Regions from separate parts of the Homo sapiens genome. Here region 1 is linked to region 2. The links come from fine-mapping of genetic effects on gene expression. A gene starts in region 2. The other region holds a variant in brackets. All regions are shown on one strand. Distances are between the middles of the regions.

The links.
Region 1: its variant is fine-mapped to the expression of METTL8 in fibroblasts (GTEx, PIP 0.95).

What each region holds. Positions count from the first base shown.
Region 1 is chr2:171,641,553-171,650,303 of GRCh38, reverse strand. No RefSeq gene overlaps it. Among named protein-coding and RNA genes, the nearest start is that of DYNC1I2, 42 kb to the left of the region's middle. The variant T/C (reference allele first, on the strand shown) is at 4,763.
Region 2 is chr2:171,430,026-171,438,776 of GRCh38, reverse strand. It overlaps METTL8 (methyltransferase 8, tRNA N3-cytidine), which reads left to right and starts at 4,787. Exons shown (of 10, transcript NM_001321154.2): 1 at 4,787-4,894. It overlaps DCAF17 (DDB1 and CUL4 associated factor 17), which reads right to left and starts at 4,551. Exons shown (of 14, transcript NM_025000.4): 1 at 4,074-4,551; 2 at 3,591-3,694. The coding sequence starts at 4,199. RefSeq lists enhancers at 3,725-4,284, 5,104-5,173, 4,846-5,406, 5,384-5,553 and a silencer at 3,884-4,793.

The DNA.
Region 1 (8,751 bases), 210 kb before region 2:
ACCCCATCTCCACTAAAAATACAAAAATTAGCTGGGCATGTGGTGCGTGCCTATAGTTCCAGTTATTCAGGAGGCTGAGGTGGGAGGATTGCTTGAACCCAGGAGGTGGAGGCTGCAGTGAGCTGAGATCATGACACTGTACTCTAGCTTGGGCAGAGTGAGACCCTGTCTCAAAAATAAACAAACAAACAAACAAACAAAAGCCAGGCATAGACTGAAAATAAAGGAATGGAAAAGATTTTCCATGCCAATGGAAACCAAAAAAGAGCAGGGGTAGCTGTATTTATATCAGACAAAATAGACTTCAAGACAGAAACTATAAAAAGAGGCAAAGAAAGCCTTTATATAATGATAAAGGGATTGATTCTTCAAGAGGATATAACAACTGTGAGTATATATGCACCCAACACTGGAACACCCAGATATAGAAAACAAATATTATTAGAGCAAAAGAGAGAGAGATAGACCCCAAACAGTAAGAGCTGGAGACCACAACATCCTACTTTCAGCATTGGACAAATCTGCCAGACAGAAAATCAACAAAGAAACATTGGACTTAATCTGCACTATAGAGCAAATGGACCTAACAGATATTACAGAACATTTCATACAATGGCTGCAGAATATACACTCCTTTCCTCAGCACGTGGATCATTCTCAAGAATAGATCATATCTTAGACTACAAAACAAGTCTTAAAACATTCAAAGAATTGAAATAATATCAAGCATCTTCTCTGACCACAATGGAATAAAACTGGAAATCAATAACAAGAGAAATTTTGGAAAGTATTCAAACACATGAAAAATAAACACTATACTCCTGAATGACCAGTGAGTCAATGAAGAAATTAAGAAAATTTAAAATTTTCTTGAAGCAAATGATAATGGAAACACAACATACCAAAACCTATGAGATACAGCAAAAGCAGTACTAAGAGCCAAGCTTATAGCAGCAAGTGGCTACATCAAAACAGTACAAAAACTTCAAATAAACAACCTATTGATGCATCCTAAAGAACTCAAAATGCAAGAGCAAACAAAACCCAAAATAAGTAGAAGGAAAGAAATAATAAAGATCAGAGCAGAAATAAATGAAATTGAAACAATAAATAATACAGAAGATCAGTGAAATGAAAAGTTGTTTTTTTGAAAAGATAAACAAAATTGGCAAACCTTTAGCCAGATTAATTAAGAAAAAAAGAGAGAAGACACAATAAATAAAATCAGAAATGAAAAAGAAGACATTACAACTGATACTGCAGAAATTCAAAGGATCAATGGAGGCTACTTTGAGTAACTGTATGCCAATAAATTAGAAAACCTAGAAGAACTGGATAAACTCATAGATACATACAACCTACAAAGATTGAACCATGAAGAAATTCAACACCTGAACAGACCAGTAATGAGTAATGATATTGAAGCCATAATAAAAGATCTCTAAGCAAAGTCCAGGATCCCATGTTTTCACTGCTGATTATTGTGAGAAATTTAGAGAAGAACCAATACCAGTCCTACTCAAACTATTCCAAAAAATAGAGGAGGAGGAGAAAACATTTCCAGACTCATTCTATGAGGCCAGCATTACTCTGACACCAAAACCAGACAAGGACAGGTTAAAAAAAAAAAAAACTACAGGCCAATATCCCTTATGAATATTGATTCAAAAATCCTCAACAAAATACTAGCAAACCAAATTCAACAGCATATTAAAAACATCATTCATCATGACCAAGTGGGATTTATCCCAGCAATGCAAGGATGGTTAACATATATAATCAATCAACCTGATAAATCATATGTCCAGAATGAAGGACAAAAACCATATAATCATTTCAATTGATGCTGAAAAAGCATTTGATCAAATTCAATATCCCTTCATGATAAAAACCCTCAAAAACTTGAGTATAGAAGGAACACACCACAACACAAAAAGGCCATATACGGTAGATCCACAGCTAGTATCATACTGAATGGGCAAAAGCTGAAAGTCTTTCCTGTAAGATCTGGGACACAACAAAGATGCCCACTGTCACCACTGTTATTCAGCATAGTAATGGAAGTCCTTGCTACAGCAATCAGACAAGAGAAAGAAATAAAGAACATCCAAACTGAAAAGGAAGAAGTCAAATTATCCTTGTTTGCAGATGATATAAGCTTATATTTGGAAAAACCTAAAGGTTCTGCCAAAAAAACTATTAGAACTGATAAACAAATTCAGTAAAGTTGCAGTACACAAAATCAACATACAAAAATCAGTAGCATTTTCCATATGCCATTAGCAAACAATATGAAAAAGATATCAAGAAAATAATCTCATTTACAATATATACAAATAAAATAAAATACCTGTAAATGAACTTCACCAAAGAAGTGAAAGATTTGTACCATGAAAACCATAACACATTAATGCAATAAATTGAAGAGAACACAAAAAAATGAAAACGGTTTGGAAGGATCAATATTGCTAAAATGTTCCTACTCCTCGAAGCAATCTACAGATTCAATGCAATCCCTACCAAAATATCATGACATTCTTCACAGAAATAGAAAAATAGGCTGGGCCCGGTGGCTCACGCCTGTAATCCCAGCACTTTGGGAGGCTGAGGTGGGCGGATCACGAGGTCAGGAGATCGAGACCATCCTGGCTATCATGGTGAAACCCTGTCTTTACAAAAAAATACAAAATATAAGCCAGGTGTGGTGGTGGGCACCTGTAGTCCCAGCTACTTGGGAGGCTGAGGCAGGAGAATGGCATGAATCCAGGAGGCGGGGCTTGCAGTGAGCCGAGATGGTGCCACTGCATTCCAGCCTGGGTGGCAGAGTGAGACTCTGTCTCAAAAAAAAAAAAAAAAAAAAGAAACAGAAAAATAAAAAAATCGAGGGGTGGAGCCAAAATGGCCGAATAGGAACAGCTCCAGTCTACACCTCCCAGTGTGAGCGATGCAGAAGACGAATGATTTCTGCATTTCCAACTGAGGTACCAGGTTCATCTCACTGGGGACTGTCAGACAGTGGGTGCAGGACAGTGGGTGCAGTGCACCAAGTGTGAGCTGAAGCAGGGCGAGGCCTTGCCTCACCCGGGAAGTGCAAGGGGTCAGGGAGCTCCCTTTCCTTGCCAAGGAAAGGGGTGACAGACGGCACCTGGAAAATTGGGTCACTCCCACCCTAATACTGCGCTTTTCCAATAGTCTTAGCAAATGGCACACCACGAGATTGTATCCTGCGCCTGGCTCGGAGGGTCCTATACCCATGGAGCCTCACTCATTGCTAGCACAGCAGTCTGAGATCAAACTGCAAGGCGGCAGCGAGGCTGGGGGAGGGGCACCCACCATTGCTGAGGCTTGAGTAGGTAAACAAAGCAGCCAGGAAGCTTGAACTGGGTGGAGCCCACTGCAGCTCAAGGAAGCCTGCCTGCCTCTATAGACTCCACCTCTGGGGTCAGGTCATAGCCAAACAAAAGGTAGCAGAAACCTCTGCAGACTTAAATGTCCTTGTCTGACAGCTTTGAAGAGAGTAGTGGTTCTCCCACCATGCAGCTTGAGATCTGAGAATGGACAGACTGCCTCCTCAAATGGGTCCCTGACCCCTGAGTAGCCTAACTGGGAGGCACACCCAGTAGGGGCAGAATGACAGCTCACATGGCCAGGTACCCCTCTGAGATGAAGCTTTCAGAGGAACGATCAGGCAGCAACATTTGCTGTTCACCAATATCCACTGTTCTGCAGCCTCTGCTGCTGATACCCAGACAAACAGGATCTGGAGTGGACCTCCAGCAAACTCCACAGACCTGCAACTGAGGGTCCTGACTGTTAGAAGGAAAACTAACAGAAAGGACATCCACACAAAAACCCCATCTGTACGTCACCATCATCAAGGACCAAAGGTAGATAAAACCACAAAGATGGGGAAAAAACAGAGCAGAAAAACTGAAAATTCTAAAAAGCAGAGCGCCTCTCTTCCTCCAAAGGAATGCAGCTCCTCACCAGCAACAGAACAAAGCTGGACAGAGAATGACTTTGACGAGTTGAGAGAAGAAGGCTTCAGACGATCAAACTACTCCAAGCTAAAGGAGGAAGTTCGAACCCATTGCAAAGAAGTTAAAAACCTTGAAAAAAGATTAGACGAATGGCTAACTAGAATAACCAATGCAGGGAAGTCCTTAAAGGACCTGATGGAGCTGAAAACCATGGCACGAGAACTACATGATGAATGCACAAGCCTCAGTAGCCGATTCCATCAACTGGAAGAAAGGGTATCAGTGATGGAAGATCAAATGAATGAAATGAAGCGAGAAGAGAAGTTTAGAGAAAAAAGAATAAAAAGAAACGAACAAAGCCCCCAAGAAATAATGGGACTATGTGAAACGACCAAATCTTTGTCTAATTGGTGTACCTGAAAGTGACGGGGAGAATGGAACCAAGTTGGAAAACACTCTGCAGGATATTATCCAGGAGAACTTCCCCAATCTAGCAAGGCAGGCCAATATTCAGATTCAGGAAATACAGAGAACGCCACAAAGATACTCCTGGAGAAGAGCAACTCCAAGACACATAATTGTCAGATTCACCAAAGTTTAAATGAAGGAAAAAATGTTAAGGGCAGCCAGAGAGAAAGGTCGGGTTACCCACAAAGGGAAGCCCATCAGATTAACAGCTGATCTCTTGGCAGAAACTCTATAAGCCAGAAGAGAGTTGGGGCCAATATTCAACATTCTTAAAGAAAAGAATTTTCAACCCAGAATTTCATATCCAGCCAAAC[T/C]AAGCTTCATAAGTGAAGGAGAAATAAAATGCTTTACAGACAAGCAAATGCTGAGAGATTTTGTCACCACCAGGCCTGCCTTACAAGAGCTCCTGAAGGAAGCACTAAACATGGGAAGGAACAACCAGTACCAGCCACTGCAAAAACATGCCAAATTGTAAAGACCATCGAGGCTAGGAAGAAACTGCATCAACTAATGAGCAAAATAACCAGCTAACATCATAATGACAGGATCAAATTCACACATAACAATATTAACCTTAAATGTAAATAGGCTAAGTGCTCCAATTAAAAGACACAGACTGGCAAATTGGATACAGAGTCAAGACCCATCAATGTGCTGTATCAGGAAACCGATCTCAGGTGCAGAGACACACCTAGGCTCAAAATAAAGGGATGGAGGAAGATCTACCAAGCAAATGGAAAACAAAAAAAGGCAGGGGTTGCAATCCTAGTCTCAGATAAAACAGACTTTAAACCAACAAAGATCAAAAGAGACAAAGAAGGCCATTACATAATGGTAAAGGGATCAATTCAACAAGAAGAGCTAACTATCCTAAATATATATGCACCCAATACAGGAGCACCCAGATTTATAAAGAAGTCCTTAGAGACCTACAAAGAGACTTAGACTCCCACACAATAATAATGGGAGACTTTAACACCCCACTGTCAACATTAGACAGATCAATGAGACAGAAAGTTAACAACGATATCCAGGAATTGAACTCAGGTCTGCACCAAGCAGACCTAATAGACATCTACAGAACTCTCCACCCCAAATCAACAAAATATACATTCTTTTCAGCACCACACTACACCTATTCACAAAATTGACCACATAGTTGGAAGTAAAGCACTCCTCAGCAAATGCAAAAGAACAGAAATTATAACAAACTGTCTCTCAGACCACAGTGCAATCAAACTAGAACTCAGGATTAAGAAACTCACTCAAAACCGCTCAACTGCATGGAAACTGAACAACCTGTTCCTGAATGACTACTGGGTACGTAATGAAATGAAGGCAGAAATAAAGATGCTCTTTGAAACCAACGAGAACAAAAACACAACATACCAGAATCTCTGGGACACATTCAAAGCAGTGTGTAGAGGGAAATTTATAGCACTAAATGCCCACAAGATAAAGCAGGAAAGATCTAAAATTGACACTCTAACATCACAATTAAAAGAACTAGAGAAGCAAGAGCAAACACATGCAAAAGCTAGCAGAAGGCAAGAAATAACTAAGATCAGAGCAGAACTGAAGGAGATAGAGACACAAAAAACCCTTCAAAAAATCAATGAATCCAAGAGCTGGCTTTTTGAAAAGATCAACAAAATTGATAGACTGCTAGCAAGACTAATAAAGAAGAAAAGAGAGAAGAATCAAACAGATGCAATAAAAAATGGTAAAGGGGATATCACCACCAATCCCACAGAAATACAAACTACCATCAGAGAATACTATAAACACCTCTATGCAAATAAACTAGAAAATCTAGAAGAAATGGATAAATTCCTTGATGCATACACCCTCCCAAGACTAAACCAGGAAGAAGTTGAATCTCTGAATAGAACAATAACAGGCTCGGAAATTGAGGCAATAATTAATAGCTTACCAACCAAAAAAAGTCCAGGACCAGATGGATTCACAACCGAATTCTACCAGAGGTACAAGGAGGAGCTGGTACCATTCCTTCTGAAACTATCCCAATCAACAGAAAAAGAAGGAATCCTCCCTGATTCATTTTATGAGGCCAGCATCATCCTGATAACAAAGCCTGTCAGAGACACAACCAAAAAAGAGAATTTAGACCAATATCTCTGATGAACATTGACGTAAAAATACTCAATAAAATACTGGCAAACCGAATACAGCAGCACATCAAAAAGCTTATCCACCACGGCCAAGTTGGCTTCATCCCTGGGATGCAAGGCAGGTTCAACATACGCAAATAAATAAATGTAATCCAGCATATAAACAGAACCAAAGACAAAAACCACATATTATCTCAATAGATGCAGAAAAGGCCTTGGACAAAATTCAACAACGCTTCATGCTAAAAACTCTCAATAAATTAGGTATTGATGGGACGTATCTCAAAATAATAAGAGCTGTCTATGACAAACCCACAGCCAATATCATACTGAATGGGCAAAAACTGGAAGCATTCCCTTTGAAAACTGGCACAAGACAGGGATGCCCTCTCTCACCACTCTATTCAACATAGTATTGGAAGTTCTGGCCAGGGCAATTAGGCAGGAGAAGGAAATAAAGGGTATTCAATTAGGAAAAGAGGAAGTCAAATTGTCCCTGTTTGTAGACGACATGATTGTATATCTAGAAAACCCATTGTCTCAGCCCAAAATCTCCTTAAGCTGATAAGCAACTTCAGCAAAGTCTCAAGACACAAAATCAATGTACAAAAATCACAAGCATTCTTATACACCAATGACAGACAAACAGACAGCCAAATCATGAGTGAACTCCCATTCACAATTGCTTCAAAGAGAATAAAATACTTAGGAATCCAACTTACACGGGATGTGAAGGACCTCTTCAAGGAGAACTACAAACCACTGCTCAAGGAAATAAAAGCGGATACAAACAAATGGAAGAACATTCCATGCTCATGGGTAGGAAGAATCAATGTCGTGAAAATGGCCATACTGCCCAAGGTAATTTATAGATTCAATGCCATCCCCATCAAGCTACCAATGACTTTCTTCACAGAATTGGAAAAAACTACTTTAAAGTTCATGTGGAACCAAAAAAGAGCCCGCATTGCCAAGTCAATCCTAAGCAAAAAGAACAAAGCTGGAGGCATCACACTACCTGACTTCAAACTATACTATAAGGCTACAGTAACCAAAACAGCATGGTACTGGTACCAAAACAGAGATATAGACCAATGGAACAGAACAGAGCCCTCAGAAATAATGCCACATATCTACAACTATCTGATCTTTGACAAACCTGAGAAGAACAAGCAATGGGGAAAGGATTCCCTATTTAATAAATGGTGCTGGGAAAACTGGCTAGCCATAGGTAGAAAGCTGAACCTGGATCCCTTCCTTACACCTTATATAAAAATTAATTCAAGATGGATTAAAGACTTACATGTTAGATCTAAAACCATAAAAACCCTAGAAGAAAACCTAGGCAATACCATTCAGGACATAGGCATGGGCAAGGACTTCATGTCTAAAACACAAAAAGCAATGGCAACAAAAGCCAAAATTGACAAATGGGATCTAATTAAACTAAAGAGCTTCTGCACAGCAAAAGAAACTACCATCAGAGTGAACAGGCAACCTACAGAATTGGAGAAAATTTTTGCAATCTACTCATCTGACAAAGGGCTAATATCCAGAATCTACAATGAACTCAAACAAATTTACAAGAAAAAAACAACCCCATCAACAAGTGGGCGAAGGATATGAACAGACACTTTTCAAAAGAAGACATTTATGCAGCCAAAAGACACATGAAAAAATGCTCATCATCACTGGCCATCAGAGAAATGCAAATCAAAACCACAATGAGACACCATCTCACACCAGTTAGAATGGCGATCATTAAAATGTCAGGAAACAACAGGTGCTGGGAGGATGTGAAGAAATAGGAACACTTTTACACTGTTGGTGGGACTGTAAACTAGTTCAACCATTGTGGAAGTCAGTGTGGTGATTCCTCAGGGATCTAGAACTAGAAATACCATTTGACCCAGCCATCCCATTACTGGGTATATACCCAAAGGATTATAAATCATGCTGCTATAAAGACACATGCACACGTATGTTTATAGCAGCACTATTCACAATAACAAAGACTTGGAACCAACCCAAATCTCTAACAATGATAGACTGGATTAAGAAAAGGTAGCACATATATACCATGGAATACTATGCAGCCATAAAAAATGATGAGTTCATGTCCTTTGTAGGGACATGGATGAAGCTGGAAACCATCATTCTCAGCAAACTAT
Region 2 (8,751 bases):
AGACACAGCCAGACCCTGACTTTGGGGGGGAAAAAAAAAGGCACAGATAGATTAAAAGTAAAGGAATGGCAAAAGATACAATGTGTAAACACTAAACAAAAGAAAGCTGGAGTAGCTATACTAATTTCAGACAAAGTCGAATTTGGCAAGGAACATTACCAGGGATTAAGTGGGCATAAGATAATGAAAAAGGTGTCAATTCTCCAAGAAGGCATAACAATATTTAATACATATGCATCTAACAACAGAGTATCAAAACACAATGTGGCAAACACGGATAGAAATGCAAGGAGAAATAGATAAATCCACTCACTATTATAGAGATTTCAATACCCATCAGTAATTAACACATCCAGCTGGCAGAAAGTTAGTAATTATGCATATACTTAAACTGAAAGGTACCATCAGTCAACTGGATCAAACAGAATATCTCATCCAACGACAGCAGAATACACATTCTTCTCAAGCTTACACGAAACGTTCACCAAGGTAGACCACATTCTGAGCCATAAAAGACACCTTAACAAATTTAAAAGACTAGAACTAATATAAAGTATGCTCTTGGGTCATAGTGGTATTAAACCACAAATCAATAAAACAATGATAACTGGAAAATCCCAATATATTTGGAGAGTGAACAACACACATCTAAATAACACATGGGTCAAAGAAGTCCCAGGAGAAATTTAAAAATATTCTGAACTAAATGAAAATGCACATACAACGTATCAACATTTGTGGGATGCAACAAAAACAATGCTTAGAGGAAAAGGTATAGCAGTAAGTGCATATGCAGAAAAGGAGAAAGACTTCAAATCGTAATCTAAGTTTCTACCTTAGGAAACTAGTAAAAGAAGAGCAAATTAAATCCAAAGTAAGCAAAGAAATAACAAAAATTAGCTCAGAAAGTAGTAAAATTGAAAACCAAAAATCAATAGAGAAAATCAACAAAACCAAAAGCTGTTTTTTTGAAAAGGTCAACAAAATTGATTACTAATATGAGAAATTAAAGAGTGGCTATCACTACCGATCTCATGGACGTTAAAACAATAATAAAGAAATATTATGAATAAGTCTAGGCTCACAAGTTTGGATAACTTAGATGAATTCCTTGAAAGACACCATCTATCAAAATTTACCCAAGGAGAATTAGATAACTTGAATAAGTCTGTATCTATTAAAGAAATGTAATCAATAATGAACAACCTACCAAAACAGAAAGTGCCAAGCCCAGATGCTTTCAATGGTTAATTCCACCAAGCATTTAAAGAAGAAATAACACAGCAGCAGTGATCAAGACAATGTGGTATTGACATAAGGACAGACATACAGATCAGTGGAACAGACTTGAACGTCCGGAAATAAATCCAAAAGTGTCTATGGTCAATTGATTTTTGACAAGGGTGGCAAGGCCTTGCAATGAAGAAAGAAAAGTCTTTCTAATAAATGGTGCTAGGACAAATGTATAGCTGCATGTTAAAAAAAATGGAGTTGGATACCTACCTTATACCCTATACTAAAATTAACTCAAAGTGGATCAACCACCTAAATATGAGCTAAAACTATAAACCCTTTAGAAAAAAACCTAGGAGCAAATCTTAATGACCTCAAATTTTGCAATGGATTCTTAGATATGGCACCAAAAGCATGAGTAATGAAAAAAATTTAGATAAATTGGACTTCATCAAAATTAACCTCTCTGTGGCTGGACGCGGTGGCTCATGCCTGTAATCCCAGCACTTTGGGAGGCCGAGGTGGCCGGATCACCTGAAGCTGGGCGTTCGAGACCAGCCTGACCAACATGGAGAAACCCGGTCTCTACCAAAAATACAAAATTAGCCAGGCGTGGTGGCGCATGCCTGTAGTCCCAGCTACTCGGGAGGCTGAGGCAGGAGAATCACCTGAACCCGGAAGGTGGAGACTGCAGTGAGCCGAGATCACGCCATTGCACTCCAGCCTGGGCAACAAGAGCAAAACTCTGTCTCAAAAAAAAAAAAAAAAATTAACCTCTCTGTTTCAAACAATAACATCAGGAAAGTAAAAAGACAATCTACACAATGGGAGAAAGTATTTGAAATCATATATCTGATAAGGGACTTGTATCTAAAATATGTAAGGATTTTTGTAAAAAAAAAAAAAAAAATTTACAAGTGGGCAAAATATCTAACCAAACATTTCTCCAAAGAATAACATACAAATGGCTAATATGCACAAGAAAAGATGCCTGACATCACTAGTCATCAGGAAAATGGAATCAAAACCACAGTGAGATGCTGTGAGTCACACATCAAGTGTTGACAAGAATGTGGAAAAATCAGAACCCTCATATACTGCTTATGGGAACATAAAATGGTACTACCACTTTAGAAAAGTGTATGGCAGTTCTTCTAACTATTAAACGCAGTTACAGTATAATCTTATGACCTACCAATTCCATTCCTAGGTATAATCTAGGAGAAGTGAAAATAAATGCCCACATAAAAACTTACATGGAAATGTTTATAGCAGCATTATTTATAATAGCTAAAAGGTAGAAACACCAATGTCTAACAACTGATAAACGGATACGTAAAATGTGGTAATTGATACAATGCAATATTATTCAACTTTATAAAGGAATTCTGATGCATGTGACAACATGGATGAACCTTGAAAACACGCAAAGTGAAAAAGCCAGTTACAAAAGACCATATATTATATGATTCCATTTATATGAAAAGTACAGAATAGGTGAATCTACAGACAGAAAACAGACTAGTGGTTGCTTAGGGCTGAGGGTAATGGTGGTACTGAGGTGACTGCTTAAAGGTACATGGTTCTGTTTTGAAGTGATGAAAATGCTCTAAAATTAACTGTGGTAGTGATTACATGTATCTGTGAATGCATTAAATATTATTGAACTGTACACTTTAAATGGGTAAATATATGGTATGTGAATTATATCCTAATAAAGCCTATAAAAAAAGCTCATTTTTTTAAAAATGCAAACTGATGTATGTTTAGAATATGCTTTAAAAGAGGTCATGCAAAAGGAAAAGTGGGTTAGATAAAGCAAATGTGGCAAATCTTGATAGTTTTTGAATCTGGGTAATGAGTATATGGGGATGCATTGTGGCTTTCCTTCCCCCCTCATGTTGGACAGTTGTGGATGAGGCTGACTGTTAAACATTTTGGATCTCTAAATACTAGGCTTTTGTTTGAAAAAATTTCTCTAAAAAAAAAAAAAAAAGGCAAGTACTTCCAAAACACAATCCATCAATTCTCCAAAGCAGCATCTAATTATTTGATTGGCAACTGGATTTCTTGACTGTGGTATAAGTAGACTAAACACTAAACAGTACTCTGAACAATCTGTGGTTTTGCCTGCACTGTAGTTTTGCTTTAAGTTGGTATTTACAAAAATGACACCTGCAACTTTAGATTTAACAAGATTTTAAAATTACATGCATTTTTTACTGCCTAGTCTTATTTCGGACCCATTTTTTTCATTCTATTTCACTAGGCACTAATGTAGGCATGTGGTTCTATACAAATTATAGTTAAGATCAACAGTGAGGTGAATTACAGCAAAATTATCAATAAAAAGTTACCTGCTGACACAGCGCCGATAATTGTCAAAATATATTCTTCCTCTCTCATAGGCTATAGGTGACCTGGAATGAGTTGTCCAGACATTCTTAAATTTAGTACTTTCCTAAAAGACATAAAGAATTTCCGTTCAGGAAAGAACTCTTAGGCTTTAAGTTAGATTTTAAATTTTCAAAGCAACATAATGTCACCTATATTATTTTAAAACTTTTTGCATCCTTCCTCCACTCTGCCCTCATGTTTTGGCTTAATGAGGTGACCAACTTTTAGAATAATTGTTTCCAGGTAAGACATAAGAAGCGTAAAACTAAAAGCAGCTGGTGGCCCTATTACCACCTATCCCAGATTCCGGGCTTGTATCCTCCTCCCCATCACATGTGACCCTATAAAGGGAGGCCCCAGCGCGTTAAAACCGCATCCCCGCAGGAGGCTCGGCCGCCGCGCGCCCGCGGCCCTCCGTCCCGCCCCGGCCGGCTGGCGGTCACCTGGCACACCAGCGCCCGCAGGATGCCCAGGTTGGTCCTCTGCACCACGCCTGCGTCGCGCGAGAAGCAGCCCAGCGCCCGGCGACTCAGCCGGCTGCACACGTTGGGCTTCCGGGTCGGGCCCATGGAGGCGCGGGCCGGGCCCTGGGTAGGCTGGGCCGCCGAGTGGCGCGCCCCACACTCCCGTGCTGGGCAGCCGCCGCTGCCTTCGAATTTCGAGGCCCAGACTTTCCCGGCGGGGCCCAGGGAAAGCTGACACGGGGAGGCGGGCAGGGAGCACCCGACGGCGGGGCGAGGGAAAGCAGAGCCGCTTGCACCGCCAGAGCGCGGAGAGAAGGGAAGAAGCACTCCCTTTTCGATCTGCCCCAGGCTCTCTGGCCGCTGACAGTGCGACGCTCCGGTACCGCGCGGCCGGCCGGAGCCGCTCTCTCACCGGGAAATGTAGTTCCTAGTGCCTCGTGAGGCAGCCCGGCTTCTCCCAGGAACTACAATTCCCGTCAGGCGGCGGGGAGCGAGGGCTTGCCCGGCCCTGCCTCTGCCTGCCGCGGCCCCGCCTCCTCCGGCCCGCGGAGGCTGCGCTGTCTTGCGGGCGCGCTTCTCTGTGCTGCGAGTGGCTAGCTGGGCAGAGCCCTGGGGGCGCGGTGCTGCCGCCTCCAGGTCTCCGCCCCGTGTGTGCGCCCTGCACTTAGGGATCCCTCCCTCACTGCCCCGGTACTCACAAGCTTCTCGGCCCCGACCTTCGCCCTGGGAGGTTCTGGCCAGGTGCCGGGAGGGGCGCTGTGTCGAGGGCGATCCCCCCAAAGCAGCGTCCCGTGCTAAAGGTACGCCCCGCGGCTTTCCCTTCAGCCGCATGTTGGCTGAGGGGGACGGTAAACTGTGCTTTTGTATTAGGAAGATGCTGGCTTCCCATTCACTCTTAGTTTCACCCTCCAAACTGGGATTGAGTTACTCTTTCCCGGAGGCTTGTCCTTGGGTGGCCTGCGGGGACACTGACTGGTTTTGCGATAATTGCTTCATTTCATTTCCTCTCGCCTCCATTCTTTTTTCTTTATAGGGAATAAAATATGAAATGCTTACATTCTTATTGGACGGCCTAAGATATTCCTCGTCGATGTCTCTAAGTAAAAGATATACTTTGTTAACTAGCCCTGCCTGTATGTTCAAAGTTCCCAGCACACTAAACTTTCAGCAAGCTTGCACCACATGTGTCCCACCGCCATGCTCTAAGTCCCTTAAGGGTGGGGCCGCTGTATCTCCCACGTGGACTTGGGCATGCTACCTCTTGTTCATAGGTGCTCAAAGAAAGCCAGCGATCGCACCTGACTGGCAGAGCAAAAAGTACAGTACAGCAGGTCCTTGAATCGCATTTTTTCGTTCAGTGTCATTTTGTATAACTTGATGAGAAAAAATAATAATTTCCTACCGGGGCTACTGTTTGTGTGGATCTTGCCCCTTCTCCCCACGTCTGCATGGGTTTTCACCAGGTACCCCAGGGTACTGCCTCCCACATCTCAGTGCAGGCTGGATGAATTGGCCTTGTCTGTGTTTCCTGTCTGAGTGTGAGTGTGAGTGCTCCCTGCGATGGAATGTCGTCGTGTCCAAGGGTTGGTTCCCACCTTGCACCCTGAGCTGAGGGGATAGGCTTCAGCCACCCTCGACCCTGAACTGGAATAATTAGGTAAATAACTATCTTACTTGTTTTTATTAATCTTCCTTAAATGTATGTATAGCTCCCATTTATTTCAATGTTTAATATTAGAAGTGTTTTGGTTTGTATTTAGGAGTTTGGTGATGTTTTTGTGACCAGAAATATGTTATAGGAACTTAACTTTTGTTTATATCAATTGGCCTATGGTAAAAATGGTTTTGTTATATGTCATTTTGCTTACAGTCAGTTTCCAAAAATCTGTTGATGACATTAAGTGAGTACTTACAGTACTGGGTGAGTGTGTTGGGTCACAGTTTAAGTGTTTAGTAAACATTGGCCATATCTCTTTTTAACCCTGCTGAATTTCCTTCAGGGCTCGAGCTTTTGCTGATTTTTCATGACTTATTTACAGCATACGGTAGAGTGCTTTGTATATTTTTAGAGAGTGCTACAATAGTTAATTTGGTAATTCATGAATGCAGCTGTCACTGAGAAAACTGGAACCCAGAAAAGATAACTGGGTTTTCTTTGGCTTAAATGAAATTCAAATCATTTCTGAATTGAATTCATCAACTCTCTCATTTCTCTTTCCTCTTTGCCCCCACTTGTTTGTCTTCTTTCTTGTGGCCTTTATTTCACCACCAAGTCGTCACCAAGGGAGAGTCATCCTGGATGCCTTGCTGTTCCTCACCCACAACCAAGTCCTTTAGACTCTTATCCATCTCATCTTCATTTCACCTAAGTAATTTAGGGCCTCACCATTTTTTATCACATTATTAAGTAGTCTCTTAATTTCTGCCTTACTTGTGACACAGGATTTTTTTTTTTTGACGTTGCTTTGCCACTGGAGACCTCCGCAGCTGGAGACCTACCCAGGCCTTGCTCGGGCTGGGCTTGCCACAGGAGGTGCCCTGCACAACTGGCCCACTGGGCCACTCCTGGCTTGCACGCAGGTGTGGATCCTGTGGCCACCTGACTGTGGGCTCAGCCCCTGGCAGGAGAGGGTGTCTGAGCTGGTGAGTGCAGAGTTGTGTGGTATCCAGCTGGTTGCTCCAAGTGCCGGCACAGGAGCTGGCTCCGTGCACCGCTTGCGGCTGGACCAGGCATGTCACAAGTGACTCCCACAGTGGGCTCTGGAGTCCAGACTAGGGGAAGGTGGTGGTAACCAAATGGGTCAGGCAACCCAGAAGCCCCAGAGGTGGGTGTTACAGCATGCTAACAGCTCTTTTAGATCTGCCCTCTGCAGCCTGACGAACAGGGGCATGTTAACAGCCCTATCAGTCCTGTTACCCCACTCCCGCCCATGGCCCTGGGGCTGGCCTGGCCCCCCGCCCTGCTTCTTGTTGCATAGGGTGGCTACCAGGCGCTGCTGGTGGGGCAGAGAGCTACCGTGTTACTCTCTTCTTCCTACCCATGTTTGGTGGCATCCTGAGCTCTTGTCCTGTGTCCAAGAATGAGATTACACTAACAATCGGAGGGTGAGGAGGACAGAGAAGAGTTTTATTGAGCAACAAAACAGCTCTTGATGCAGGATTTTTGCTCTTAGCTCAGCTAGGTCTGAGTTTTTGTCTCACAATCAGTAAGAATTAGGTGTGTGGACCCCGGAGAGTGAGTGGAGTAGAATTTATTTAGTGAAAGGAAAGCTCCCAGTAAAGAAAGGGGTCCTGAAAGCAGGTTGCTGGTTGCCCCCTTTACAGTTGAATACCTGGGCTTAAGGTGCAAATTTCTGGAGGCTCCACCCCATCCTTCCAGTGTGCTCGTGGGCCCTTAGTCTGAGCTACTCCATATTGGTTATTTCCCTTACTGCACATGTGTTAGGGAATGGAATTTTCTATTGTGGGCATGTTTAGGCAAGCCCCCTGTGCAAATTCCCTTATGTGCACAAAACATCTGGTGTAAGCACTTTTGGGGCACGTCGTAGGTTCTTCAGGGACGCTTCCCTTACTGTCTGCCTAAAGCAAGCTGGCTAACTCCTTTCATTCTCAGCCAAGAGGGGACGCAAGGGTGGTCCCCCACCCAAAGTAGTTTGGCCTCTCTTCTGGCATGGCTGGGTCTGGGGCTTTTATGGGCTCAGAATGGGGAAGTGCATGCTGATTGGTTTGTGAGTATGCAAAATAGGCTAAAACAAAGGCACCACTCAAAGGTGGGCACAACAGTGTGAAAAAACAAATTAGAGAAGGGTGGGTATATGTAAAATAGGTGAAGGGTGGGGATCAATCAGAGGAAAGTGCACCAAATGGGAAGAGAGGTTCTCGATCTGGTCCATAGATTTATCCAGGACATGTAGCTAGGCTTTAAGCTGTCTTCAGCTTGAAGGTCAGGTTTCACTGGGGACCCACCCCCATCTGCCTAGGATTTGTCTGCCTCCTGCTGCTATCACTTGGGTACTTTTAATTCCAGCCCTCCTCCATACTGCTGCCAGAGTGATTTTCCTAAAGCACAAGCTGTCACTTGCCTGTTGCATTCTTTCAGCAGCTCCGAACACCCATAGCAGAATTTCTTATTTATTTATTTATTTTTATTATACTGTAAGTTCTGGGGTACATGTGTAGAACGTGCAGTTTTGTTATATAGGTATACATGTGCCATCGTGATTTGCTGCACCCATCAACCCGTCACCTACATTAAGTATTTCTCCTAATGCTATCCCTCCCCTAGCCCCTAGACAGGCTCCCTTTTTTTTTTGTTTTTTGTTTTTGAGATGGAGTCTTGCTCTGTTGTCCAGGCTGGAGTGCGGTGGGGCTATCTCGGCTCACTGCAGCCTCCACCTCCCAGGTTCAAGTGATTCTCCTGCCTCAGCCTCCCCAGTTGCTGGCATTACAGGCGCACACCACCATCCCTGGCTAATTTTAATATTTTTAGTAGAGACGGGGTTTCACCATGTTGGCCAGGCTGGTTGTGAACTCCTGACCTCAGATGATCCGCCCACTTTGGCCTCCCAAAGTGCTGGGATTATAGGCATGAGCTACCGTTCCTGGCCCATAGCAGAATTCCTTTTTTTTTTTTCTTTTTGAGACGGAGTTTTTTTGC